7 linked regions of the Homo sapiens genome follow. The protein of the gene in region 7 interacts with the protein of the main gene of each other region in a pairwise test. Each region holds a gene or a part of one and is shown on either strand. Other genes may lie near its edges. The genes, in order: VRK1, LHX8, ZDHHC17, FOSL2, BACH1, ATF3 and ATF2.

Region 1 (4,223 bases), on a different chromosome or scaffold from region 7:
AATGTTTAATAAAGGTACAAGATTAATTTAAAAGGGTGATAGAACCCTAATAAAACATTTAGGTAGGTGTTGTAACCAAGATGTATTTTTACTCTAGGATAAGTTTGGCTCTTTTGATCAAAATTCCTGTGAATATATTTCTACTTGCCATTATAAAGATGCAGAGGGCTCTGTCCTTTGAATTTTTTCCCTTTGGTGCTTGAATGATATTTAAGCACCCAGCATTCTGAAGTTGCTGTTTTGAAGTAATTTCATGCACTTTCCCAATTACTCCTGCTCCATCTCTCCCAATGTTGTCTTAAATCTTTGCACTCAAATTCAAGCACATCCTACTCCTCCTGTTCTGAGTGACATATGGGCAACACTTTAAAAAAGAAAAGCTCTCTAGAAAATCTAGAGAGGTACGAGCGATGGCCCTTCTCCCATATTAGGAGTTAGATTTTTAGTATTCATCAATAAATACTGATGAGAAGAAACTGCTCTACTTTTACCAACATTCTTCAGGAAATTTATTAAGATTTTTATTAGCCACAGTATCTTTGTCAGCTTGGAAACATATATGTTTGTGAATCACATTTATTTAGTCTTTAGGTAAGTATATGGATTTTGATGATTCTTTGCAGTTACTCCTATCTCTCTATGGGTTTCTTGCCCATAGGATGGGAACCAGTACTCTAGGATTTGAAAATTAAGGTAGATACTGTTCACACTGGCAAATATTTAAGATGAATATTAAACGTGTATACTAAAATGTTTATTGGTAAGTAATTCATTAAATGGGAAGATATACTAGATGAAGTAAATAATTAAATTGCAAGCACAAGCAAATTAAATTTGAGATTTGGGAATGGTCTGTCATATACTTTTAAAGCAAATATCATACTGATAATGGAAGGACACGTGTCTTGTGGAGCTCAGTATCAGGAACAATATAGTTGGTCCTGCAGGGGACTAAACATGAGAACTGAAAGTCATTAGGAACACGAGCAGCCTCATTCCACTGTTCCAGGGACCTTATAATTTCTTTCTGTGTATTTATTTTATTTTCTTTTTGAGGACCGTCTGTCTGGCTGTTTGTATGTCGGCAGATATGTCTGCTCTAGACTTAGATACTTGCTTTAAGAATCCAAAAGAGATTGCATTATCTAATTGTCATTTATATCTAAAATTAAACAAACCATGAAGTTAGACATAGCTAAGATAACCACAGCTTTATTTCAGGTTAATTGCTTTTCTTAGATTGTTTTTATCAAGTGACAGCTAAAGAAAAGTCATCATTTGATGACACTAAGTATTAGTGCATTGTGATTGCGTTTCACAATATTAAGTGTTAGAAAGAACTATTAGACCTTAAGTATTTATAGAATGTGTCTGGAAGACACAGGGAGAGAAACTGTTAATGTTTCTACTGTAGTCTTTAGAGTTGCTTTTTTCACATCTTATTGCAGTTTACTATGTAATTTGGCAACAGCTATCAACATAGAGATTATATGTAATTACAGTGTACCCTTGAACAACTCAGGGGTTGGGAGTGCTGACCCCCATGCAGTTGAAAATCCATGTATAAGCTTTGACTCCTCAAAAGCTTAACCACTCATAGCCTGTTGACCAGAAGCCCTACCAATAGCATAAACAATTAACACATATTTGTATATGTACTATATGCTATATTCTTACAATACAATAAGCTAGAGAAAAGAAAATATTATTAAGAAAACCCTAAGAAAGAGCAAATATATTTATTGTTCATGAAGCGGAAGTGGGCCATCTTAAAGGTCTTCATCCTCATTGTCTTGGTGTTGAGTAGGCTCAGGAGGAGGAACAAGAGGAGAGGTTGGTCTTGCTGTCTTGGAGTGGCAGAGGCAGAAGAAAATCTGTGTATAAGTGGACCTGCACAGTTCACACTCATGTTGTTCAAGGGTCAGCTGTATGCATTTTTTTCTTAGAGGTAATCTGTTATTTGGGAATCAGGAAAAAAGTTTTAAAATTCATTTTTTAAAAATAAGTTCAGGTTATAACATTTAAGAAGTTTAATCTTGTTTTTTCAGACTTGCAGAAAATACTTTAGAAATGCTGACTCTAAAATTTATCTTTCATATGTTGCTGGTAGGAATGTAAAATGATATAACCACTCTGGAAATTAGTTTGGCAATTTCTCGAAAAGTTAAACGTACATTTGACACACAATCCAGCGATTGCACTCCTGAGCCTTTATCCTAGAGAAATAAAAACGTTCACAAAAAAACCTGTACATGAATGCTCGTAGAAGCCTTGTTTATAATAGCTAAAAACCAGAAACAACTCACATGTCCTTCAGTGGGTGAATGGTTAAATAAAATGTGATAGTCTTGCGGTAGAACACCACCATCAAAAAAAGAAACAAACTGTTGGTTCATGCAGCAACTTGGTTGGAGTTTAAGGGCATTGTATTGAGTGAAAAAAGCCAGTCTCAGAGATTGTATGATTCCATTTATATAGGATTCTCAAAATGACAAAATTATAGAAATGCAGAACAGACCGGTTTTGCTGGGGTTAGGGCTGACTTTCTTTGAGATGATAGAACAGTTCAGTGTCTTGTTTATGGTGATGGTTACATGAATCTGTACACATGACACAATGTCCTAGAATTAGACACACAAAAGAATGTAAAAGCTGACATTTCAATAAGTAGTTCAGTGATGAATATTGTATTAGTGTCACTTTCCTGCTTTTGATAATTGCACAGTGCTTGTCCATTTTATGGCTGTATCACATTTAACCATTTACCCATGGAAGGCCATGTGGGTTGTTTCTGGTTTTTGGTGATTGCAGGTAAAGCTGCTATGAACATTAATGTACAGGTTCTTTTGTGACTGTAAGTTTTAATTGTTCTAGAATAAATATCTAGAAATTCAACTGCTGGGTCATATAGTGATAAAACCTTGAGCCCTCTTATTCTGTCCCAGGTGGGGTGTAAATCATCCCTTTGTCCAGCATATCCACACTGTATACACTACCCACCAGCTAGTTAGTCACTCTTGGTTATCAGATTGACTGTCTGGTGTCTTGGTGCTTGTGTTTGAGAATCCCTTATTGTACTTAGTAGTGACCCCAAGTGCAAGACTAGTGATGCTGGCATTTTTTTTTTTTTTTTTTTTGAGGCAGGTCTCTTATCTTGTCCCCCAGGCTGGAGTGCAATGGTGTGATCTCAGCTCACTGCAACCTCCGCCTCCCAGGGTCAAGCGATTCTCTTGCCTCAGCCTCCCTAGTAGCTGGGTCACAGGCGCCTGCTGCCACGCACCGCAAATTTTTGCATTTTAAGTAGAGACAGGGTTTCACCATTTTGGCCAGGCTGGTCTCGAACTCCTGACTTCAGGTGATCCGCCTGCCTCTGCCTCCCAAAGTGCTGGGACTGCAGGGAGTGAGCCACCGCATCTGGCCGCTGACATATTGTTATAATTACTCTTAGTATTGTTGTTAATCTCTTAACTGGCTCCAATTTATAAATTAAGCTTCATCATAAGTATGTCTATCTAATGTATGTATAGGAAAAAACGTATTTATGTAGGGTTCGATACTCTCCATACTCTCCACCATTTAAGGTATCCACTGAGGGCTTTGGAATGTATCCCTCACAGATGAAGGGGGTGCTGCTGTGTTTGAGAGATACAGTTTCTCCACAACCTCACTACCATTTGGTATTGGTGATATTTTTTGTGCGTACTGGTATCTTGTCATGGCTTTAATTTGCATCCTAATGGCTGATGATTTCATGTGCTTATTTGCCATTCATATTTTTTTTGGTGATTTGTCTGTTCAAGTCTTTTACCCGTTTTGTGATTGGTTTGTTTTCTTACTGATTTTAGAGCATTCTTTATATGTTGTGTATACAAAATCCTTTGCCAAATATATGATTTGTAAATATATTCTCTCAGTCTCTGGCTTGTCTTTTCATTCTCTTAACAGTGTCTTTAGCAGCAAAAAAGTTTCAAATTTTGTTAAAGTCCAACTTCTCAATATATGGATCGTGTTTTTAGTGCCTATCTTAGAACTCTCTGCCTAACTCTAGGTCAGGAGGTTGTTCTCATTTTTTCTTCTGTTTTACCCTTATATGTCTTACATTTAGATCCGTGATCCTTTTTGGTTTCATTTTTGCACAGGATGTGAGCTTTAGATCTTGGTACATTTTTCTTTTCCTTTTGTCCATGGATGTCCAGTTGTTCCAAAACCATTTGTTGAAAAGT
Region 2 (4,223 bases), on a different chromosome or scaffold from region 7:
GCAATCAGGGCTGATTAATGTGAAATAAAAGGAAGCTGCAAAGAATTTATAAGAAAAAGCTGGCCTTACTTCAGAACTACACCCTGCCCCTGGCATTCAAAAATAGAAGGTTGGCAAAGTATACTCTCAAGAGTGATTAAAACTAAAAGAATAAAAAATTAATAATCTAGTGGGGTATATAGCCTTGAGCAGGAGGCTGAAAAGTAGCAGCTAAGGAATGTTTCTGGGACAAGACTTAGGTATCCACCAGTAAGACAAGTGGGAAGTCACAGCCTCCTCCACATCCCTGTTCTCTGGAGTGTTAGTGAGACTCAGAGATACCTATAGACCACACCCCAAACTCCACAGTTCTGCCCACAGGCTCTGGAACAATAGATGTCACTACTAACACTAGTCTCACCCAAATAGGATGACATTACTCAAACATTCTCCAATGTGTAAGGGGGAACCACTGCCACCGGCCTTTTTCCCTTATGGGACCCAGAAGACACATACGCCAGAGGACTACATATAACCTAAAACATGTTGCACTATGATTCCCAGAGTTTCTTCAAAGTATCTTTTTGTCTCCAATAAGTTATATATTGAATGGAACCTATGCAGTTGTAAAACAAAAGAAACACCATCTTTTGATTGAAAAAAAAAAACACTCAAACTTTGTAAATAAACATGAAGAAGGTATAATATAAACAGCAGAATAACTATCTTGTTAAGCAGCTTCTTGGAAAGATCATCCACAGGTAATCAAGCAGAAGGAGGTTTGCAAAAACAAAGTATCATGTAACTAACTGGTAGAGCAAAATATAGTTTAAGATTCCAGACATCAGGAAATTCCTTCTGGCATGAATGCTACCCAGCTTCAGAATCAAGTATAAGTCCTTTTGACTCTCCTCACTGACAAAATTTCCTCCTTCTTGTTTGCAAACCTCCAACAAGAGTTAACATTTTCTGAGTAACTACTTTAAATTTTTTGACTTCTAAATCATAAACTAAGCTAAAATCAGGCCATGTAGATATAATGGAAAAGCAAAATACTAATGCAGAGAATGAAACCTTTAGAAAGCCCAGACAAAAAGCCAAATATAATAATTTTGTATATGACAAAGATGGGATTTTATTTTATTGGGAAAGCATGTTTCACTGATTTAGGGAAAACTGATAGTTTATCATTTGAAAGAGAGAAAAAAATAGATAAAACCCTATCTCCCATGAACCAAGCCAGATAAATTAAAGTTTAGGCGTAAATAATTGAAACAATAAAAGTTTAAGAAAACAAAAGGCAACATTGAAATACTCTCTAGATAGGGAAGCATAAGAAAGGCCAAAACTAGACCCGGCGTGGTGGCTCACACCTGTAGTCCCAGCACTTTGGGAGGCCGAGGTGGCAGATCACAAGTTCAGGAGTTCAAGACCAGCCTGGCCAACATGGTGAAACCCCATCTCTACTAAAAATACAAAAATTAGCCAGTCATGATGGCAGGTGCCTGTAGTCCCAGCTGCTCGAGAGGCTGAGGAGGAGAATCACTCGAGCCCAGGAGGCAGAGGTTGCAGTGAGCTGAGACTGCACCATTGCACTCTAGCCTGGGCAACAGAGCAAGACTCCATCTCAAAAAACAAAACAAAACAAAACAAAAAGGCCAGGCGTGATGGCTCACTCCTGTAATCCCAGCACTTTGGGAGGCCGAGGTGGGTGGATCACGAGGTCAGGAGTCGAGACCAGCCTGGCCAATATGGTGAAACCCCGTCTCTACCAAAAAATACAAAAATTAGCTGCGTGTGGTATCACGCACCTGTAGTCCCAGCTACTCAGAAGGCTGATGCAGGAGAATCGCTTGAGTCCGGAAGGCGGAGGTTGAAGTGAGCTGAGATCGTGCCACTGCACTCCAGCCTGGGTGACAGAGTGAGACTCCATCTCAAAAAAAGAAAAACAAAACAAAAAAAAAGGCCAAAACTATCAAAAGACTGGGAGATTTAAACACATAGAAATATAAATGTTCTGTGTGGAAAAAATAAAAAGGAAATTGATGAACCGTGAAAGGTTAACATGACAGATAGGATTAATAAATATCAGTAAGATATAGAGAAAATAACCCAACAGAAGAGTGAGCTAAAAACATACGGTCTTAAAAATGAAAAAATAAACTAATTTGTTCAAGCTCATTGATAATATAAGAAACAGAAATAAAATCAATGAGATTTTCTTTTCTAACTATTAAATTGTAAAGGATGTAAAAGAGTAACAGTATTCAGGATTCTTCTGAGTTGGGGAAAAGGAACTCTTGTACGTAGCTCCTGGCAGAATAAAGTTGTATGAACTTTCTCAAAGGCAAAGAGATTTCATGTTTGTATAAAGGCCCTATGCATGTTTTATCTTTGGACTCAACAATCTCCCTTCCAGAAATTTATCCTGAGGAAACTATTGAACAAGCACGCAAGGTAGATATACAATGTTGCTCATGGCAGCATTTTATAATAGTGAAAAATTGGAAGCTAAATAAATTGTGCTATGCTCAATATATGTGGCAATAAATATGATGTTAATATGGAAGGGTATTCCTAGTACACTGATTGGAAGAAATAGCAATAGTTTACTCTGTCTCTGCACAACATAAAAATCATAATTCACTTATCTGAAAGAGTATGTGAACAGTGATTGTATCTGGATGCAGTGTGTGGGGAAAAAAATCACTCATCTTTATTCTTTGACTTCAGTATAAGGACAGTCTGCTTTATTACAAATGTCTTACTAAGCATATTTGTAACTAGGAAACGTGAAACTCTCCACGTATCACACCAGTTTCCTCCTAATCTTTGGGTGACCTAGTTTGCATATTAGAAGAAGTCTAGTAATAAAAACTCTTTTTTCTTACCTTTCTAAAATATTATGCCCAATGCTAGGAAGGAGGCTGAGGGAAAGTATGATTACTATTTGAGATCACAGTAATTCTTATAAAATACTCTGAAGGGCTACAACATATAGTGAGCCTATGTATAGATACAAATAATAAACACATAAGCATGCTAGTACTCTTTCCTTTGGAATCATATCAAAAATATTTAATGTTCAACCTTAACATATTGAAAGCCAACATTCAAAATATATTCTCCAAATGGTAGGGCTTAGGACAAAGTTAACTTGCTCATAGTACTAGTAACCTAAATGCCTGGAAATTACATGACAGATGTCTGCCTGTGTTCCTTAGTCCTTCAAATATGAAAAGCTCTAAGAAAACTCTCCTTCTTCTTTGCTTCCAACTTCAAAATGATATAAGTCATGCATCTGACTTACCTGAAGCTATCATTGTTATGAATATACAGAGTCTTAAATTAGAAGGAACTTTTAGCCCGTGGAGTCGGAACTACCTGCCAAAGAAAACTGTTCTCCCAGGCAGAGGAAACTCACTACCTTCCTTGGTAGTCCGTGCCATTTGTGTAGCCTTTCAATAATGAGAAAATTCATTATGAGTGAACACCAGTGCCTTTTTCTACATTCCGTTGCAGGGAAGCCTTTCACAAATATTTAAAGACACCTACTCTGGATATTACTCTTTCTCTTACCATCTCCTGGCCTTATCTCCAGATAAATATCCCTGCTGCCTTTAATATTATGGCATGATCTAAATCTTTCACAACCCTGGTAGCCTTTGAGGTAGTATGTTTTTCAGATTGCTTATTAGTCCCTTCTTAAAATTTGGCACTCTGAAATAAGCACAATAATCTGGATATCTGAAAGTGCTGAAGTGGTAGAACTTGTCTCCTAAGACAGCCTCATTACCTTGCAGTCAATTAAAACACTGTGAACCCTAGGTCTTTAGAGAAGCTGCAGTATCATCAGGTCTTTTCCATCTGCTTCTTCGTACAGGTGATTTGTTAATTATGAAACCTTTAGGCTTACAGAAGAATAAGTACCCATGTATCAACCACCCAAATTAAGAAACAAAATAAAATATGTGCAATGAAGACATTTGCCTTTCCCCTCCCTGAGTTTCCTCTTGCCTTTTATGGTTACTTGCTTTCACTCCTTAAATTTTTTGAACTTCCGGTGTTATTTAAAATTATTTTCCGGCTAGGCACGGTGGCTCACCCCTGTAATCCCGTCACTTTGGAAGGCTGAGGCGGGCGGATCACAAGGTCAAGAGTTTGAGAACAGCCTGACCAACATGGTGAAACCCCGTCTCTACTAAAAATACAAAAATTAGCTAGGCATGGTGGCTTGCACCTGT
Region 3 (4,223 bases), on a different chromosome or scaffold from region 7:
AGCATGTAAATTCTTATGTTTAAGTTTCTCCTTCTTCTTAGTTGTGTTTTCATATCCTTTTTAAAAAATGATAGTATTAAAAATATCAATAAATAAAAAAATGTAAAATCATGGCACATCTCTAGAGTACTAAAAGAAAAATGAAATTCAACCTTTTCTCTCTTTGGGTCGGGATTTAAAACTTGGTACTTCTTTTCCAAGTTCAGCCTGGACGTATGGGTATTCTCTATTAGGAAGAATTAACAAGCCCAGATCAAAAGCTTATGGGAATTCCATGATCAACAGGGCTCCATAACTTAGCATTTTCCCCTTTTTCTCCTGAAAATCATCCAAAAGAATTGGTAGTGAGCACTAAATATATTTAACAATATAACTAAAACAAAACGATTGTGAAGAATAGAATGACAAAACTGAATGGAAATGTTATATACCCTGACAATGTAAAATTGATATAATTAACAACAAAATGGGAAAATGGAAAAAGGTTGAAATGAAAATATGCTGAGAGCCTCATCTATAGTAGCCATGAATCAAAGAAAACTATCTAAAGCTGAAAAATCAAGTAATAAAAATGTAGTAAAAATTTATCAGAACATAGTTAACATTAAGAAAAACAATATTATTGACTACAGTCGATAAAAGAGAAAGGGAAGAAGAAATAAAAATATGCTAATTTTATTACTGCTTATAATTAGGAACTATGTAATCAGAACTAATAAAATTTGAGCAACCATCTGACTGAAGAGAGAGAGAGAAACTGTGTGACTATCTGAGGAAAGAATATACCAGCAGAAGAAACAGCAACCAAAAGGCCCTTAGACAACAGCATGTCAGAGTTGCTGAAAAAGTAGCAAAAAAAAACTAGTGCAGTTAAAGCAGAGTGATGATGGGGAGATGGCAGAAGTGGAGCTCAAAGGTATCCAGGGGTTAAACGGCACAGTGCTCTAGCACAGAGAAAAACTCTGGGCCCTCACAGTATGATGCAATGCACATTGGAAGAGTGTCTTTTACAATATATTAGTGTATACATGTTGAGTATCCTTTATGTAAAATGCTTGGGACCAGAAGTGTTTGAATATGTGTATGTTTTTCCTATGTTGAAATATTTGCATATATGTAATAAAATCTTGAGAATGGGACCAAAATCTAAATGTGGAATTCATTCATCTTTCATATACACCTTATACATACAGCCTGAAGGCAATTTTATTCAATATTTTAAATAATTTTGTACATGAAACAAAGTGTGTGTACAACGAACTATATTGGAAAGCAAAGGTGTCAGGGGTAAAATTTTCCACTTGTGGCATCATGTTGACACTCAAAACGTTTTGGATTTCGCAGCATTCCGGATTTTCAGATTACAGATGCTTAATCTGTACATGGAATAAAATCTCTTAAAATACATACTACATTATTAAAGGAAGTAACCTCAGTCAGCAGATGGCCAAGGGGAGAGGTGAGATTTCATTTTCTAAGTCATATTCTATTATGCCTGAATATTTCATAATAAACATTTATTATCTTTGTGTGCAGAAAAAAAATTTACTCATGGAAAAAAAAAACTATTTCTCAGACATTTATCATCATCATTATCATCATCATGCCCTTTTTGTACCAAAAGCACTGACAGGTAGAAATCCTGCCCTTTGAGAATTTTATAGCCTATATACTATACCAGAGGTTAAAAAGATTAATGAAATAATCCAAACTCCAAAATCAATAAGTTAAAAAAAAGACCATGAAGACTCAAAAATGTACACCACCTTTCTTTCCCAGTTAAAAACTGAAAGTAAAAAAGTGAATGTGTATTGTAGATTTATTCTGCAATATGGAAGGCCACTAAAGACCTTGTGATGTGCTATAGCACCATTTACTGCTTCAACGTTTGTTCTAGAAAAAAACTGCAGAATAACAAGAATAATCTCCTATAGCAGTTGCTCTCCAGATGACCCCCCATAAACCTGGCCTCTTGGTATTCACACCCTTGTGTGGTCCCTTCCCTCCGGGTGGTTATGGCCCTTGTTAACTCACTTTAACTGATAGAATGGAGAAAAAACGTTGCTGTGTCAGTTCAAGACCTAAGACTTAAAAATGCAAAACAGCTTCTACTTTTGTTCTTTTGGGAGCTCTAAGCCAATATGTAAGAAGTCTAGTTCTCCTGCTGGAAAGACCACATGGACTGGTATTGAAAAGTAGAAGTTCTGACACTACATAGAGAAAGAAAGAGGCCTCGCTGCCCCAGCCTCCCAGTTAAGCAGTTTGTAGCCATTCCTATCAAGTCACAAGATATGTGAGCCAATCTTCCAGCTCAGTCAAGCCGCCAGACAACTGCAGCCACCAGCCAAGGAGAAAAACCATCCAGCCAAGCCCACAAAATTGTGAGACGTATTAATTGGTTGGTATTGTTCTTAAGCCATTAGATTTTGGCAGTAGTTTTTTAACACAGTAACAGACAATAACCCCCCCTCCCCTTCCAGCAATTAACTTTATCAGTCTATGCCTCTTTTCCTAAACTATAATGCACAACACAACTGCCACTGCTTGAGACTGCCAACAACAAATACTGTAAAACCTTCATTAAAAGAAATAGTATTCAAATTCTAAATCCGCATAGAATTTTAAATTAACAATAAATACATGTTGATAGCAACAAATTAAATACATATATCTTAAAGTTATTCTTGTGATGAGATCCTTACTTATAAAATTAATGTTCAAATATAACCAGAAAAAACACACTAAAGAAAAACTGGGTGACATTACTTTTAACAAAATACGTTTATTACAAAAACATGATTATATAAACTGGTAATATTTAATGTGATTATGGTCACTGCACACTCAAGAAAAATCAGGAACAACCACTTAAAATATGATGTTTTTCTGACAAGTAAGAAGCAGCATTATCTTATACAGCAGAAACTGATCTTAAAAAATGTATCCCTCTCAAGAGATATTTAATATATAAAATAACCAATAAATAAGTTCAAAAAAGTTTGGATGAATTCAGATGATATATTCAAAATACATAAAGAAAAAATAGATACTTATATTTTCTCTCTTAATTTCTGAGCTTTATCTCCATTACTCTTAGAAATAAAAAACCCAACTTCATCATTATCTGGTTCATGATTTTCATGCTGGCTTTTATGTTAGGTACATTAAATATCTCCATATCAAACTCACTATATTTATGTTCTTCACCCATCAGAAAGTGCTATTTAAATATCAACGGCTTGTTACAACACCAATAATATTAGGCATTTAAACTATGAAGAACATCTGATTAAAATCCATACCACTGAGATTTTTTTTACCTGTCCTTTTGCTATGAGATAAGCAACAATTGAGGTATGTCCGAACTGAGCAGCCAGATGAATACAGCTACATCCTTCTCCATCAATTAATGAAGGATCTGCACCATATTTCATTAGTTGCACAACCATGGATAGATGGCCTTGTCTAAAACATAAAAGAATAAACACTTAGATATATAAAGTTATTTCAAACAGGATCCTCTGGGAAGAGCTTTTTCAAGTAAGGTATGGTGGGAAGATTACGTATGTATTTTGAAAAGTTATTTTAAAATAGATACATGTCAAAATACATTTAGGATTTTATGGTTCTTAGAAGTCTTAACTAGATTAACAGTCTGAAAATGTATGGAAGTACTCATAACTTATTTAAATATATAGTAAATAATTACTATATTCTATTATGTCCATTCTAATATTATCTCAATCATCCCAAGAAATGAGCTAATTCTTTCATTGTAAATATATACAGGCTGCAAAAATATTACGTTTAGAAATCCAAAGTTTAATCCAATCTTATAACTAACTGAATTAATATCAGCATGGCCAGGGAAACTTTGGACAATAAACTTTTGCTTCTTTACAGGTAATATTTCACAATAAAACATCAGCATATTTATGATATTAACTAACGGCATAATAAGCTCTCCTATTCATTTTAGTATATCATTTTTTTAAAGTTGTTTATTTATATACTAATAAAGGAACCAAAGGAAAAAAATCCAGAAGCAAATTTAAACCTTGTGGCCCAGTGCAATGGAGTTGAATTCAGGTCCCCTCCAAGTTGATCCACAATAGCACCTTTCGAAATATAGTATCTATAAGACAAAATTTATAATAATTTAAATAACTTTCATTTTCAATTTTAAGAAATTTTGTGAAAAATATGTAAATACATGTTTTCTA
Region 4 (4,223 bases), about 150 Mb from region 7:
TGGCAAGGCAGTTTACAGAGTCCACAGGGCTTCATGGCTTGAATGCTTGATAACCCAGACAAAAATCTATCTGATGGAGAATCGCCTGGCCAAGGGGCTGGGCCAAGAACCCCAACCCTGACTTCCATCTCACATACCAGTTCTGCCCACTCACGAGTCTCTGGGATAAGCCCTCGGCCCCATCCGGTCCTGTAGGGGCCCAAACCCTAGTTCCAATACCTGTCAGCAAAAAGCCATGGGTTCATAGCTGAAGCCAAGGCTCCAGTATAGAGTCTCAGGAGGCAGTTTTCCCAAATCAGCAACTGTTGTGGGGGGAACTTCTCTGACCTGCTGAGGTTTGGTGGCCCTAGAGGGTCCGTGTTTTCGGCCGTCTTTCTCATTGGCAGTGGAAGGAGCACACGCATCCTTCCCAAGCAGCCCGGTGGCACCCTAGCAACAGGGTACAGCAGGGTGATGGGAGTTTCCATGCCCAAAGACCACAAGGCTTGTAAGGGTTTGAACGTCGGCTCAGGGTCTGGAGGTTCAAGCTGATAAGTGAGAGCCCGTCTCCTCGGCTACCTGGGTTGGAGGAACATCTCAGTTCTGACTTTTTGCTTTCTTATTTCCTCTGTATTCGTTTCCCTCCAACCTGAGCATGGGAGATGAGAATGAACCTCTGGGACAGGGGTTGGCAAACTATGTCCTGAGTATTTTTCTAAATAAAATACAGTGGCACAGTCCTGCCTATTTGTTTACATGTTATCTAGGGCTGCTTTCGCACTGCAGTGGCAGAATTGAGGTGCAGCCAAGACCGTATAGCCCACCAAGCCTAAAATATTTGCTGTCTGACCCTTCACAGCAAAAGTTTGCTAAACTCTGCTCTAGGAGGTGGATGGGGACCACTATATCCTTTTATAGGCATTCTTGCCCACCCCGCAGTTGACAGGGTGACACAGTGAAATATTTGGAGGCTTTGCCAGGCTGGAATGCTACATAGGCATCCAGCATCTTCAAAGTGTCCTTGAGGAGGACATGTTGGCTACAGAGCCCCAGGCAGCCGAGTGAGGTTTTGGGTTACCTCTCCTGATCCCATCACTCCCAGCACACTCCTGGCATGCATGCAGCAGGTTTGAAACTGCCCTGTAGCCCCCAGCTGAGCAGCTCTATCTTGGTTTGTGTTTAGTGTTAACTCGTCCGTAGAGAACCACGATTTATCTCCAGTGTGACATGTGGCTGATTCTCGGGTCTATTGGCATAGAAGAATGCTAGGCTAACTTCTGGGACCACAAACTCCTAACTTCACCTCTTCTCTCCTACCCCAGTGTCTGAATAACACGTTTCTGAATAACACGTTTCTGAATAACATGCTGGGAGTTGAGACAAGACCCATCTGCCAGATCTAATTGAAACTTTTGTGTGTCTCCAAGAGAAGCTCCTCTTGGAGACAAAAGCCTTCTTTATCAGAGCCCCGGGCCCCTCTGGGGATGGGACATTGTTTTCCTTGCAGTTTAGAGCCAGTGTATTATCCAGATGGCTTTGCCTCCTGTCTGAAACAAGGTGTACATGCGTTTCAGAGGCAGTCATTACCTCCTGGCTGGTTTTTATTGCTGTCTTGTTTTGTCTAGACCAAGCCATTGCTGCGAGGAATCTGGCTGATGTATACCGGGGAGCACACACCACGGACCTGCCCTCCAGAGCGGGTGGACTAGAGGGCCTCAGAGGGGCTAATAGGCATCCACTTATTCTGAAGGGGTCTTTGTCCCTCAGCTTTGCTTCAGATTTTCTGCTGGGTTCCCCAAGCCTAAAACGGGAGCACTTTTATTTGTTGGAATGAGGAGTGACTTTCTTAGGTGCTTTCCTAAAAGGAAAGCTGACAGCTTCCCCATGGAGGAGGGAGTCATATCAAACCATTGTGCTGAATGCCTCAGGTGCATTTCAAACCCAGAACCTGGCTTGGGGAGAGAAATGGAATTTAAAAGTTGGGTGCTTCCCAGGAGTGGGTAGCTGGCACTTCTCCCCAGAGCCTCCTGGGCAGAGTACACAGGCACATCTAATGATGATGGTGGTGGTGATGGTGACCTTCCATTGGTTTGGAGCAATGTTTCTCAACCCTGGCTGCACAACAGACTCTCCTTGGGGGTTTAAAAAAAAAAAAAAAGCTTATCAGAGCCCTGCCCCAAACCAATTATTTTAGAGGTCTAATGGCGAGGCTCTGACATTAGTGTGTTTTTTACAAGCTCCTTGGAATATTCTAATGTGTAGCCAGGGTTGAGAACCACTGGCGTGCTTTTATAGCCTGTGATTACAAGTAGCTACTCATTTAATCCTCATGGCAGTGCAGTGAGTTTGATGAGTATTCCCCTTTACATCCATGGAATTGAGTCCTTGAGCCCAGGGCAAGGCACTCAGTGGCTAAGCCAGGCCTCAACCCCATGCCTCCTGACCCCGAGTGCAGTGTTGACTCCCCGCCCCTCCCATCCAGCAGCTCAGGAAAAAAATAGCTGTCTGGGACTTGGTGCTTCTACACACACTCAGCCATGCCTGCTGTTCTCACGACTCTGCCTACTCACAGCCCAGCCCCAATTGGCCATTTTTCCTCCTTGAAGATCATTTCCCACTTGGATGCTTTCCTGTTCACTGCACTCTTCCCTCCTTCATATGCACACACCTGCTGCTTTTCAGTCAGCGCCTGATAAAAAGCCCACTTTTCTTTGCCTTCAGAAATGCAACTCAGAATCTATCACCCTGGGCAGCTCTCTTCACGGGATCCCAGAATCCATTGTACTGGGTAACTTTCCTCCAGTATCCCAGAACCCATTGCTCTAGGCAGCTCTCCTCCTGAATCTCAGAATGATGCATTGCACCGGATAACTTTTCTCCAGAATGCCAGAAACCATTGTTCTGTGCAACTCTCCTCTTGAATCTCAGAATGCATTGTACTGGGTAACTTTCCTCCAGAATCCCAGAACCCATTGCTCTGTGCAGCTCTCCTCCCGAATCCCAGAATGCATTGTGCTGGGTAACTTTCCTCCAGAATCCCAGAACCCATTGCTCTAGGTGGCTCTCCTCCCGAATCCCAGAATGCATTGCAATGGGTAACTTTCCTCCAGAATCCTAGAACCAATTGCTTTAGGCAGCTCTCCTCCCAAACCCCAGAATCCATTGCACTGGGTAACTTTCCTCCAGAATCCCAGAATCCATTGTGCTGGGCAGCTCTCTTCACTGAAGCCCTTGGCCTGGGCCCCCGAGGTGGTCTGGTTGATGAGGCAGCCGTTCCAACATGCAGACTAGGGTCAGGCAGATAGCAGGGAATTGAGCAAGAAGGGGTCCCCAGCTCTGTCAGCTGTAGTGAGGTACTCTATGTGTTATTTACACAGCAGGAACCCTGATGTTGTGACAAGGCAAAGACAATGGTGGTGCCAGCTTCCATTGCTGCGAATGCTTCTATCCTAGTTGGTCTGATTGGACCAGCATAGGGAGGGTTCTACAGCATCCATGCTAATGATAGTGGGGTTCCATTCGGGGCCAGACAGACCTGTGGTACCTTCTTTGTGAGAGGGGAGGTCTATAGGGGATGACCTGACACTCTGTCTGAGGGCAGTGGGGGTGGATAACCAGCACTTAGGGCTGGATTTTGAGGAAGAAAGCAATGGAAAAGGAGCTTGTATACCACTGTGTTCAGGGGCTCTGGCCTCTTTGTCAGGCTGGACTGGGTTTGAATCCTGACCCCGCTGCTTATTAGCAATGTGGCCTTGAATAAGTTACTTAATCTCACTAAGCCTAAATTTCTGTCCCTAAAATGGAGCTAATGGTCGTTCTTCACTCAGAGAGAGAATTAGTGAGATAATCTAGGTAAGCCATGGTGTCTGACATTTAGTAAGTGCCCAGGAAGTGTTGTTAGCTATTGTCTTCATCTCACCCAGTTTTTAAGTGGGGAAGAAACTACTTGGAGAAGCTTTATGTGGACACAGGAGTCATCTGAAGATGAAGGTTCACCTGGGTTCCATTAGGGGGACTTGCCTCTGAAAAGCTGGAAGTAGGGGGCTCTTCTCTCCTTCCCGCTTCTTGCAGTTTCCAGTAGCTGCCTTGGAGAAAGGTCAGGACCAGCTGCTAAGGAGCACAGCCCATTTTAGTTTCTATACTCTGTCATCATCTTATATTTTAAATAGAATGCTTCCTGCAGCATGTTCCAGAGAGCTCTGCAACGTGGTCTGGGCATAAATTAAGAAGCGGGGAGAAAACTG
Region 5 (4,223 bases), on a different chromosome or scaffold from region 7:
TGGTATGTGGGGGAAGAATAGGTAAAACTGAGGAGGGATGGAAGAACAAGGAGTTCAAGAAATACCCCAAGTATCCTGTGTGTGATGAGAAGGAACACTATTACACAAACAGATTAAATGGGCATTTGTGGAACAACAAATTTCCCCTTATTAATCAATATTTGGTGAATCTTTCTTTTTTTTTTTTTTTTGAGACAGAGTCTCACTCTGTCACCCAGGCTGGAGTGCAGTGGCACAATCTTGGCTCACTGTAACACCTGTCCCCCAGGTTCAAGCAATTCTCATGCCTCAGCCTCCCAAGTAGCTGGGATTGCAGGCGAGCATCACCACGCCCAGATAATTTTCATATTTTTAGTAGAGACAGGGTTTCACCATGTTGGCCAGGCTGGTCTCGAACTCCTGACCTCAGGTGATCTGCCTGCCTCGCCCTCCCATAGTGCTGGGATTACAGGCATGAGCCACCACACCCGGGTCTGGTGAATTAATTTCTAAATAACACTCACTAGATCATATAACCAATCTCATGCATCACTGAAAGGAACCTGACACTAAACTGTGCTCAACTTAAATCATCAAGGTCTATAGTTATACATACTACATATGGACAACTAGAAGAAGAGAACACTAGGAAGTATTTCACTACAAGTTACTTTCAATACAGAGGATTAAGCATCCATGTTCTATTTTCATAATGAAATAAAGATTCTTCATATGCCATCTTGTTTTTTAAACTGTAAAAATTACAACCATAATTCATATTCTTTAGGAGGCGAAAGCCCTAAAACTAGTTGATGGCCAAAATGACCCCCTGCAGGTTTAAGAGTTGACACACATAGTATGCATAGTAACCGAAAAGATAAAATAAACAAAAAAAGTGCTCTTCAAATTCCTAACTATACACCAACTCACAATAAAATTTGAGTCAAAAAGGGGGGTGAGGGTGGAGGGAGGTGCTTAAGAGTATAAAAAAGAATGTTAACAATTTTAATTAAATAAAACAGAAGTTACCGTAGGGCAATCAGTATATCATATGAATCACAAATTTGAAACTGTTTTATTCAAGTAGAGATACTAAACTGAAATGTCTTATTTAAAAACAACCTAATCCACTAATCCCTAACAGCCACCGTAGGGCCACAGTTTCTCAATATACATAGCTAAAACTAAAAACATAAGTCTATTTTTTACTATTTAACTTGGGAGTCAAAATAATCATTTCTAAAATGAGGATTTCCAAGCTACAGATTTGCACCAGTGATCTCAGTAACTACTTTTCATTATATCATAACCACAAGATTCAGCCAAATAAGGAACAATTTGCAGCCTATAAATAAAGCTGAAATATAGCTCAGTTTAAATAGCATCTGAGGAACTACTGAGTAGGGAAATACTATTGCATTTATCTGAGACAAAAATTATATTGGTAGTACAAGTCTTTCTAAATTCTATCCAAAAAACTAATACCAGTTCAGAAGCCTACTCTGGCCATTTATCACAGTCTATTTGTTACTCTCAAAAAGAAACAACCATTGAGCAATTCTCATTTTGTAAATTTACAACACTCAAGTGTTTAGGATTTACATTATTTGTCTGCCTTTCACAGCACAGAAAGCACCCAGACCTGCGATTGAGAAGGAACAAGAATGAAATACAAAAGTGCTTTTACACAGTGATCATACTTGTAACAACATACACAGGTGTCCCCCTTATCTACAGGGGATACATTCCAAGAACCCCAGTGGATACCTGAAACTGCAGATAGTAACAAACCCTATATATATACTATGCTTTTTCATCAAGCACAGTAAGAGATTAACAATAATAAAATACAACAATTATAACCATATACTGTAATAAAAGTTATGTGAATGTGATGTTTGTCTCTTTCTCAAAATATCTATTGTATTTAATATTTTTGGACTTCATCTGACCACAGGTAACAAACTGCTGAAAGTAAAACAGTGGGTGGGGATCCTACTGTATTTCAAAATTGCTAAGAGAGTAGATTTAAAGGTTCTCACCACACACACACACACACACAAAGGTAAGTGAGGTAATGGACATGTTAATTAGCTTGATTTAATCTTTCTACAATGTACACATACAGCAAAACAGAAAAGTTAGGAGTACTACAAGAATACTGTATAAACTTAAGGTGGCATTAATTTTAAAGTCTGAAAAGAATGACGAATAAGCTAACTACGGGACAGCTTTCCCTTCGAGGAGGGGAATGAGTGTGTAGAAAAGGGAAGATGTTCCTGTTTGTACTCCTGATTCAAGAATTTGCATTCTAAAGAATCCTGACCCATCTAGCCAATGAACTAACAATTCTATCTGAGCCAGGCTGGCCTCAGCACTCAGTGCAAGCCATAGAGACCACAGGTGGGTGTGCACTATGGACTGAGGGACAGAGTAGTCCTCTTAGTATACACATAATCAGAAACTACAAGATATAATTATATGTTCTCCTCTCCCTGAAAGGAATAAGACAATGGCAGGGAACTTTTGAAATGTTTAAAGCATTGAAAAAAAAAATTATTTCTTCTATATATATTTATTGACAAAATTGGCATTTTCAATTTTTAAATAATTTTTAAATAAACCATTGATTTGATTTGATTGTAAAAGTGCTACTTGATCATAGAAGGAAATGGCATATAAGAGGAAAAAAAGTCACCTAAAATTCCAAATCCAAAGGCAAGCACATTTTCTTTTTCTCCTCCGAAGTTTGTATCTAAGTGTAGTGGTGGCAGAACTAGTAGACAAGGATGTCACTGTTAACTGCACAACACCATTCACCCCCTCACTTTCTAACCAAACCCTGACTGTGCTCACGTATCTACTCTCAACCCGAGGCCATCAACTTCCAAGGAAGTAGACCCCAGCCACAACCTAAGATGAATCACGATCCATTTATGCCAATCACAGCGGTACTATTCCCCTTGACCTTGACTCATTTAGGCACTGGCTTGTGTGCAATGCTGACCTATGAAGAGAGGAGAGAGGGACAAGGTAGCATCTGCTATGAGGCTTTAGGGAAAAATTTTTCTCACTGATAGCAACAACCTAGGAAAAAAAAAAAAAAAGTGTGTCTTCTTCCAGGAAACTTAAGTCATATTTTCTTGTGACACTTGAACTTGTGGCAGCCATCTTGCAACCATAAGAGGAACTTGCCAAGGACAAAACAAGGACGTTGCCTGCATCTTCAACCTTTTTCCATTGACTGGATTTTTAAATACACACACACACACACACACACACACACACACACACACACACTCTTCCTGACCCAACTTCTCCCTACTAAAATCTATTTCTCTCTCCTCTTATTCACAGCTAAGCTTCTCAAATTGAGTTGATACAAGTTGTTTCCTCCACTAACCTATGCATTCATCACTAAACATCCCTAAGGCTTTCTTGATTTCCCAAAACTTAGGCTTTTAATAGTCTGTGGTTCCACAGCACATTTTACATGTTGCTACTATAGCATGCTATGGGAATAGTTTGCCTGTCTATTAGACTGTAACTTCTGAAAAGTTCATTATTGCCAATATCTGGAAAAGTTCCTGGCTTATAAAAGCCTAAACATTTGTTTCATAAGTTAAATGTAAACCAAATGCCTAACATGTAGGAATGCCACAAATATTGACATGAATTTAGCAACCCTACTGTCCACATACACTGAAAGTTAAGTATGCGTTCATGTGAGTTGGGGGAGAACAGCAGCAGGAACAGGGAGAAAAGAGAACACAGTGCCTTAGCCTTGAAACTTAAAAACACAGTTTTTCCTCACTCTTCAGAGATTAGAGAGCTGTTCCAAGCTAATTCAACAAAAAAGAAGAGGCTGTTTCCACACTGGCATCTGAGAAGCAGTGGTAGGATAGCTCTCTAGAATCTCAGCTCCTCTGCTATTTGTGACCACTGTTGCCAACCTGCTCAAAGAAGAAAAGGTGGCCCAGCCTTTCTGGGGTCTGGAAAAAGACAAACTAGTCCAAAGACAGGAGGCCCTCAGAGACAAAATATACTTTTTAGAAATCTAAAAAAAAATACCTATAGTTTGAATAGCACTTGTGACAGTCTTTTACCACAAAGAGACAACGAAGTAGGGAAAGTTAATCGTAATTACATGCTCATCCCCAAGCAGCATTTCCTTTGACTTCTCTGGATGACAACTGAAACTGAAGGCATGCCAGCAAAGAATCCGAGTGAGCTGGGCAAAATGC
Region 6 (4,223 bases), on a different chromosome or scaffold from region 7:
ATGCCCAGCTTTGCACCTCTTCAAGAGGTCTGGGAGGAAGACCAAGATATGAAGAGTTAGTGAAAGGCCAGTACTGGCTTCCTAGTAACATAAGATGGTTAGCAAGCAATGCTTAGTGGAAAGAGGATGAAAATTAAAAGTGAAAATTCAATGTAGCTGTAGCTACTAGGAAATAAAAATCTGGGAGCTGAATTTCCAGTTAAAGGAATACATGAGTAAACTTTCACTTTCTTGAAAATGATGAAACTGCCAATGATACAACATGATTTCTGATTGGAAATAATCAAGCAGAAACAAAATGCAAGTTCTTGGTAGCAAGTCTGAACAATTTTATGATCAGCATAGAAAGTCAACTCTGATCTGAGGTCCCCAAACAATTTTTTTCAATGACCGGGATGTTTGAGGATCTCAACTTTCTGAAAAATTGTGTGAAGATTTAACTTCATTTCCTTGTGGGGACACAGCCGTAGTCTAGGCTGAATCATACCTCGAGAGACTGAGTAAAGGAATAACTAGAAAGTATCCCGAGAAGTTAAGCTTTAGCCTAGTGCCGAGAAAACCCAAATCTCGACAGATACATCTGTTTTATTTTCTGAAAGGCTTTTAACATTTTTACAACCATTTATGTCCCCAAGGAAGCCCACCCAATGCTTTTCATAAAAGCATTCCATACCACTGACATTCTTCAGCTTCTTTCATTGGGACTGCTGACTTTACATAAGAAGAAGGGTAGGGGGCGGGAGTCATAAACAGCAGACCCCAAGCCCTGAGAGCTCATTAATAAACCTAGTTGGATGGCAAAATGGAACTACACTCTACTGCAGTGGAATTCAAAGTCCCCGTGTAGAAGGGAGCCATCCAGGCCTCCAAACAAAGACCAGCCCAGTGGCAGCTCTGAATGTCATCCCCGAATCACTGAGTTTTTAATAAACTTGGAAAGGGAAGGGAAACATGAATGCATGGGAGAATCTTAAGCCTCTGGCTTTAGAAGGCTAGTTTCTCAGAGTTTATTGCCTGACAGCGACAAGTATCCTCCCAGCATCCTAAGATTATAGGATTAAATTGAGAGAAGAACTTCAGTTCTGACTCATGACACAGGGCTTTGGGAAAAGAATTACATACATAGCCTGGGTTTCTTTGACTAGTCAAGGGCAGATTTCATTGGCCTGGAAGTCTTGCCTCCATTGGTGTATGTTAGATCTCCAGGGGGAGTTTGAAGTCAGGGTATTCTATTCAGAAGCCTTTGAGATCAAAGTGGGTGACCAGCTGCCCTCCTTCCTGGACTCCACAGAGCCTCTGTCAGAGAGCCAGCCCTGGGCTGGAGAGATCTCTGGGAGGCCTAGTAATCATGGAGCTCCTGGCCAAAGAATGTTTTCCAGGGCATATTCATGTATTAGTTCCTCAATTCCTCATAGGATATTATGGGAAAATAGGGCGATTATTACAAGCCCTCTTTAACAGAGGAGAAAAAGCCACGGGGAGGTACAATGATAACACATAATGGAGTAAGTGGGCTTCAAATCTTCATCTTCTGACCTCAGTCTGGGAATTTTGTGGATAAGAGACCCACTTGCTCACACTCCCAGAAGGCAGTTAGCAAGCAGCCTGGGTATGCACCGTGACATAAAGATTAGCAGTTCATTAAACAGAGTTCAGTTTATCCCGAGGAATCTTTACTTAGCCTCCCCTCTATCACTTCATTTCCAGGCCTCCCACCTACCTTAAGGCCTGCCCCGAGAAAATTTGCTCTGGTTTTTTGTTTGTTTGTGCAATATAACATAATGCTTGTTTGTTTTTGTAATGTAGAATAATATTTGTTTGTTTTTTGCAATGTACAAATTAAGGGCATGAATCCTGGAGCCAAACTAACTTAATTCCAAATCCTGATGCTGCCCCATATTAATTCTGTGAATTCGGGCAAATGACTTAGTTTGTCTAAACCTCAATTATCTCATCTATAAAAGGCAGCTAGATCTTAACTCACTGGGTTCTCGTGAGGATTAAATGAGATAGTGCCCCTAAGGTTTCTGGTATGAAGGAGGCACTCCTTAAATGTTCGAGACTTGCCAGAGGGCTTCTTCTCTGTCTGGACTGTGCTAATGACCACAGATCCCCGGTTGAGAGGAATGCCCAGACCACACTCATCCTACACTCATCCCTATACTCATTGTCCCTTGGGAACCAACTGCAGGGAGGAGGGGAAATGGCCACCACTGGAGGGAGTACACAGCAGGCCAAGACTTATGGGGGACTCTTCCAAATTGGGGCCATGGAACTGTCACTATTTCTACTCTTTATTTTCCTTTTGTCATCCTTTTGGGTTCACCGAGCTATAGAATAACAGAGGGAGATGAATTTAGCAAATACATCACTGAAGCTTCTCCCTCGGAAGTTGGGCCCAAGCAATGGGAATGAGAAAGGTAACCTTGGACCGTGGGGGCCATTTGATTTGATGACCCCATCCCCACTTCATTTATCAGTTGGCCAATGAGGCATGGCGAGTCAGGCATTGGGCCAGGCTCTGGGTAAAGCAATGGTGGAGACTCAATGCTTGCATTGGAGGAGCTGTCAGTCATTTACCAGACACAGACTGGGTCCTAGAGAGCTGAAATTACTAGCTCAAGTCACTGCTGTTTAGTGCCAGAGCCAGCCCCAGGGTTCCCTGCCCCCACACCCAGCCTAAGTCTATCCCTATACCACAGGCCTGAACAACTCCCCCACAATACAGTGCCTCACTTTTCTTTAAGACCTTTTGCTTTGCCAACCTTAACCTTAAGAATCCACCTCCCCATCCCCTGCCAAAGACTGGGGTGAAGAAACGCACCTGGCTACAGTTACCTTTCTCATTCCCATTGCTTGGGCCCAACTTCGGGGGAGAAGCTTCAGAGATGTATTTGCTAAATTCAAGGATTCCCCACTTTTTGCTTTTACTTCCACTCACTGATAGTTTCAGCTTGACGTCAAGCCTCTTTGAAAAAGAGGCTTTTTTTTTTAAGTGAAAGAAACTTTATTTTGAGTAATATACAAAAAAAAAAAAAGAGAGAGAGAGAGAAAGAAAAAGAAGCTGAAAATGAGATTACTCATGATTTTTAAAATGGCCTCACTGATTTTTAAAAAATGTTCTTCCTCTTTCAGGACTGTTTGTGGCCACATTTGCACATAGGCACACCAGCCAAAACTCATAGATCTTGTGAATTCAGAGTAGCCTGAAACATCATCCCTTATAAATTTCAAATAGGCATTTTGTTCATGTCACTGAGCTATGTGTATTTTAAGAACCTGCTTTACTTAAGATGAGGATGGCATGAAATGAAAACAAAACAGAAACCCAAGGGCTTATGGGACTTTTCTCTGAGGGTGGGGCTCTGGTGTTGGAGGTCTGGTGGGGGAGGGGGACTTGATCCCATGCCCCAGAGCCCCTGAAACAGTTTGGGTTTCAATGTGTCTTTCAGCAAAATGATGCTTCAACACCCAGGCCAGGTCTCTGCCTCGGAAGTGAGTGCTTCTGCCATCGTCCCCTGCCTGTCCCCTCCTGGGTCACTGGTGTTTGAGGATTTTGCTAACCTGACGCCCTTTGTCAAGGAAGAGCTGAGGTTTGCCATCCAGAACAAGCACCTCTGCCACCGGATGTCCTCTGCGCTGGAATCAGTCACTGTCAGCGACAGACCCCTCGGGGTGTCCATCACAAAAGCCGAGGTGGGTTCTATCACAGGTATTCATTCTTTCGGCACATGTTTCGCTCGCAGCCACTGTGTGTTGGGCATGTTCTAGGCAGGGGGCTGTTGTTGAGAGTGAAACAAACAAAACCACTGCCCTCAGGGAGCTTACCTTCTCCTGGGAGGAGACAGAAGTACATAACATACGTAAGTACACGTTAAGAGATGAGTGCAAAGGAGAAAAAAGCAGGGAGCGGGGCAGAGAGAACGGGTAGGGATGGGGTTGCTGGGTTTAAAAACTTTTCAGGCCAGGCATGGTGGCCCACGCTTATAATCCCAGCACTTTGAGAGGCCAAGATGGGATTATCGCTTGAGTCCAGGAGTTTGAGACCAGCCTGGGCAACACAATGAAACCCAATCTCTATGACAGTATTAGCTGGGCAAGGTGGTACATGGCCTATAGTCTCATCTACTTGCGAGGCTGAGGTGGGAGGACCGCTTGAGCCCAGGAGGTTGAGGCTGCAATGAGCCGTGATCACCTCACTGCACTCCAGCCTGGGTGATGGA
Region 7 (4,223 bases):
ACTAACATGTTGAGATGAATAGGTTAACATTACTATGCAAATAAAATGCATGATGTGTGTGGTATATTTTTGGTGATCAGTAGCCATATGCAATGTGCATGTTAAATGATTGTGCCTATGTTGACTTTTCTGAAGTCTGATGGTTCCAGTAATCATTGATAAAAGTGACTTATGCTTATGTATTTTATTTTTTTAAGATTTTCCCCTCCCTTTAATGTAAGTTAAGAGCCTTCTGATGAACTTAGATAGACAAACCCTTTGGGTGTGAACAGAAGAGTCACATTTAGATTTGACCTACTAATTTAGTCATGATGGACTTAAGCTAATACATGTACTTTACTTACTGTAATGTGATTTTTGAGATCTTTTGGGAGGTGGGAATTAAGGGATAGGCTAGAAACTAGTAAAATTATGATATAATAGAGTCCTTTTAGTAATTCTGATATTACTAACAGTGCCTGAAACAGGCCTGCATTATGTCTAGTTTTGTATTACAAGTGGGTCATTTTAGTGTGAAATATATTTGTACATAGTAAAAATACTAGTCCTCTAGGTATACATGTGGGGGGCAAAGGTAAAATAGGAAGTAATGCCCTCTGTGGGGACATAATGGTTAACAAATATGTAAATTTTAATCTTACAAAAGGAATTAGGAGTATTTTCTCTTAAACCAAGAGTCTTCCTTAGTAGAGTACTTTTACTTCACTTAGGCTAGATCCCTGCTATAGCCTGTAAAATTGGTGCTCTAAAATATATTAAATGTGAATAGAATTTGAATGTGCTACCAACTCTAATCAATATGAATAGACACCCTTGAAAATAGTAACACTAAATAGGCAGAATTTATAAGTTTCTTGCTTTTCATTCAGTGTAAATCTTACCTGGCATTTTTTGTAGCCTATACATGGACACTGAGTACCTATGTTAATGTACATAGTAGGAGTACATATTCGAGTAAAGTTGAAATGTTTCATGTTGTAAGAAAATAGAGTAGACTCTTTCTTTACTCCTTAGGAATTAAGCTAGAACATTCTGGAGGCATGTGACTCACACATATTCCTTGTACCTAGCTTGTAAAATGCATTAAATTAGAAAATTAGTTTCAGTAGATAGTGGTAAAAAGAGGGTTTGTTGTTTTAGGGCTGTTTTAACTTTTTTTTTCTTTCTTACAATATTTTTATCTACCTATTAAAGATTGTTTTATCTTAGTTTGCTTTCATAATAGAGTATGAACAGCTAGTGGAAGAACCAAGTTAAAGCAGATATACATGCTCTTATCCTAGTTTTCCCCAAATTTCATTTATTTAAATAATTGTAGTTTTTAATAATGTAAATTTAAAAAATTCTTTATACTGTGTTAGATAATAATAGTTTATCTCTTGAGTAGAGGATGTTTATGCCATTCTACTCAGAAAGAAGCAGTGGACTAAGGAGCAAAAAGGACTTCTTTCCTACTTTCATATTTCATAGTTCTTAAAGTTGGAGGAAATACGAAGTACAACAAAAATTTAACCAAATTTTGTTTGTTTTAAAGGAAGAGGTCTTTCCAAAGAGAGAATTAACAACTGACTGAACCAGTCCTGCTAATTTGTTAACTTAGTAGCTATATTTTAGAGTCTTAACATATTTAAATATGCATGATTACTTCTTGACATTTATTTCAGATCAGACCCCAACACCAACAAGATTCTTGAAAAACTGTGAAGAAGTGGGTTTGTTTAATGAGTTGGCGAGTCCATTTGAGAATGAATTCAAGAAAGCTTCAGAAGATGACATTAAAAAAGTATGTTGTAACCATGAAATTTAAAAAGAGTACTTCTGACAGAAAAGTAATCATAGTTTATACTTCCTGCTTTTTAAATTTAGACACACTGTTTTTGAACTTATAACCTTTTCCTTATTATTTGAATTATAGATGCCTCTAGATTTATCCCCTCTTGCAACACCTATCATAAGAAGCAAAATTGAGGAGCCTTCTGTTGTAGAAACAACTCACCAGGATAGTCCTTTACCTCACCCAGAGTCTACTACCAGTGATGAGAAGGTTAGAAATTTTTAGAAATACAAAGTAAGGGGGAGGAACAGTACCCAAATAAAGTTTACTATTTAATCTCCATAAAATGTTAATGTATTAAATTCAGTGTCAGCTTGCAATAGTTTTATATGTGAAAGCCTGTCAATACTCAGATATTTCAGGGTAAGAAGACTGCAGCTTTTATTGTACATAGAAAAATTATAGGGGAGAACAGTCATGTTACATAAAACTTATTTTTAAAAGATATATAAATTTATAAATTTAACTTAATTTTTCTGTGTTTTGCTATTTTATATTTAGCTACTTTTATACAGTAACAGCTTAATTAAGAATCTATTCAAAAAATTATTTGAACAGTGGTTTTTTAGACTTTTACAGGATTAAGGGACTAGTTACTCATTCTCAGCAGTGGATCTTTGTTAGCGGCAATTAGGACGATGATGATACTAGCTTGAATACCCAGATAATCTGGGACCACCTGGGCTACAGTTGTGTGTTGAGTAACATTATTATGGGAACTTCTTGATCACTCTTTTGTTCACAAGCACATAGAATAAGCACATATTTATTTGGGAGTACCATGCAGGACACAGCGAAGGGCAATGGGACACATAAAGAGGCAGTGGCAATATTCTTTTTTAGATTGTTATTCTAAAACCATACTTATTAATGGACTTCTGTCATGGCAGAGGAGCTAGAAATAAGGAAATACAGAAAAAATAACTTTTTGGCTAAGAATAAATGCTTTGTTTTCTGTTTTTTTTTCTTCATTTTCTTTTTCTCATTTTAAAAGTACATTCTCATTCTTCTTCTCTAAGAATACAGAAACATGAAAAGAAAACCAAAATCACCTATTAGCACATAATTGAATAAGAATTACTATCTTGAAACATTTTTTTCTAGATATATACATTTATAGGTACAAATACATAAGTGAATAGTTAAATAGAAGGATAGATGGATATAAAGATCCTAGCTTTATTTTATATTGTGCTTTAGACCCTCAGTATTGATGAATATTTTCCCATGTCATTAGAGAGTTCCCCAAATCATACTTTTTAATGATTGTACTTTATTTTATTATATGATATGTATATGTATTATGTTATCCTGTTCTTTTTGGACATAAAGGTTGTTTCCACATTATTACAGTTATTGGAAATGCTTTTTAAATCTCTGATACAAATCTTTTTTCCTAGAGAGCATTTCATTCTTTTCACACTTAACAGTTTTTCATTGTTCGTGGCTGCTTCAGCATCTTTTAGGAGTATTCCTTCTTTCTGCATTCCCCAATCATTAGGCCCTCCTTGAGCAAGGTATACCATATGAAATTGATTTAAAAAAAAAAAAATCTGGACCTCTTCTTCTTTCTTGATTTTCTTCCTAGGTGATCTCATCCAGGCCCATAACTTTAATAAACATCTACATACTGATGACTCCCAAATTTCTATGGGCATAGGTATCTCACCAGATTGCCAGATTTATATCCAACTCCATCTTGACATTACCTTTTCTATGTCTAATAGACATCTTAAACTTAATAGGTCAAAATCAGAGTCCTTGATTCTTCCCCCAGTTTTCCCCATCTCAGTAAATTTTCTCCATCCATTTAGTTGTTCTAGCTGAGAATTTAGGGGTCATCCTTAATTTCTTCTTTCTTTTACACTGAAACTAACAGCATATTTTATCAGACCTGAATCTCATCCTCTATGTCTGTGTTCAGTGACACCACGTAAGCCCAAACCATCATCATCTTTTGTTTGGATTATTAACAGTTACCTTCTAACTTGTCTTCCTGCTTCTACCTCCAATCCATTTTCTGTAAGATGACTTTTAATACATTAAATATGTCACCTGCTTAAAATCTTTCAATGGTCTACCATTGTATTTAAAATAATTCACACTCCTTGGCATAAGCCCTCTTTGATCTGGGCCTGTCTACGCATCTATCCTTACCTCATGCCTCTCTATTGTGTTCATCAAATATTCAAAGCTTTTTCCTACCTCAGGACATGACATATATGGTATTGCTTCCTTCTCCCTACAATGAAATGCTCTCCTCCTCATCCTTTTATCATCAGTTCGAATGCTGTTTTTGCAAAGAAGCTCACCTATTCTTACTATGCTGTCTAAATTAACTGACTCTTCCTTACCTTCAGCTAATCTTTCATCCTTTGTTACATTGCAC

What was found.
Region 1: the proteins of ATF2 (region 7) and VRK1 interact in binary tests that used the Homo sapiens proteins (3 or more experiments, as listed by UniProt).
Region 2: the proteins of ATF2 (region 7) and LHX8 interact in binary tests that used the Homo sapiens proteins (3 or more experiments, as listed by UniProt).
Region 3: the proteins of ATF2 (region 7) and ZDHHC17 interact in binary tests that used the Homo sapiens proteins (3 or more experiments, as listed by UniProt).
Region 4: the proteins of ATF2 (region 7) and FOSL2 interact in binary tests that used the Homo sapiens proteins (3 or more experiments, as listed by UniProt).
Region 5: the proteins of ATF2 (region 7) and BACH1 interact in binary tests that used the Homo sapiens proteins (3 or more experiments, as listed by UniProt).
Region 6: the proteins of ATF2 (region 7) and ATF3 interact in binary tests that used the Homo sapiens proteins (3 or more experiments, as listed by UniProt).

The regions. Positions count from the first base shown.
Region 1 is NC_000014.9:96,800,052-96,804,274, forward strand, and holds part of VRK1 (serine/threonine-protein kinase VRK1), read left to right. Parts: intron 1-4,223. UniProt on the Homo sapiens protein: Serine/threonine kinase involved in the regulation of key cellular processes including the cell cycle, nuclear condensation, transcription regulation, and DNA damage response.
Region 2 is NC_000001.11:75,150,816-75,155,038, reverse strand, and holds part of LHX8 (LIM/homeobox protein Lhx8), read right to left. Parts: intron 1-4,223. UniProt on the Homo sapiens protein: Transcription factor involved in differentiation of certain neurons and mesenchymal cells.
Region 3 is NC_000012.12:76,808,955-76,813,177, reverse strand, and holds part of ZDHHC17 (palmitoyltransferase ZDHHC17), read right to left. Parts: intron 4,136-4,223; coding exon 4,058-4,135; intron 3,466-4,057; coding exon 3,321-3,465; intron 1-3,320. UniProt on the Homo sapiens protein: Palmitoyltransferase that catalyzes the addition of palmitate onto various protein substrates and is involved in a variety of cellular processes.
Region 4 is NC_000002.12:28,399,117-28,403,339, forward strand, and holds part of FOSL2 (fos-related antigen 2), read left to right. Parts: intron 1-4,223.
Region 5 is NC_000021.9:29,305,226-29,309,448, reverse strand, and holds part of BACH1 (transcription regulator protein BACH1), read right to left. Parts: exon of another isoform or gene 4,127-4,223; intron 1-4,126. UniProt on the Homo sapiens protein: Transcriptional regulator that acts as a repressor or activator, depending on the context. Binds to NF-E2 DNA binding sites. Plays important roles in coordinating transcription activation and repression by MAFK.
Region 6 is NC_000001.11:212,611,566-212,615,788, forward strand, and holds part of ATF3 (cyclic AMP-dependent transcription factor ATF-3), read left to right. Parts: intron 1-3,452; 5' UTR 3,453-3,456; coding exon 3,457-3,696; intron 3,697-4,223.
Region 7 is NC_000002.12:175,115,811-175,120,033, reverse strand, and holds part of ATF2 (cyclic AMP-dependent transcription factor ATF-2), read left to right. Parts: intron 1-1,664; coding exon 1,665-1,783; intron 1,784-1,915; coding exon 1,916-2,044; intron 2,045-4,223. UniProt on the Homo sapiens protein: Transcriptional activator which regulates the transcription of various genes, including those involved in anti-apoptosis, cell growth, and DNA damage response.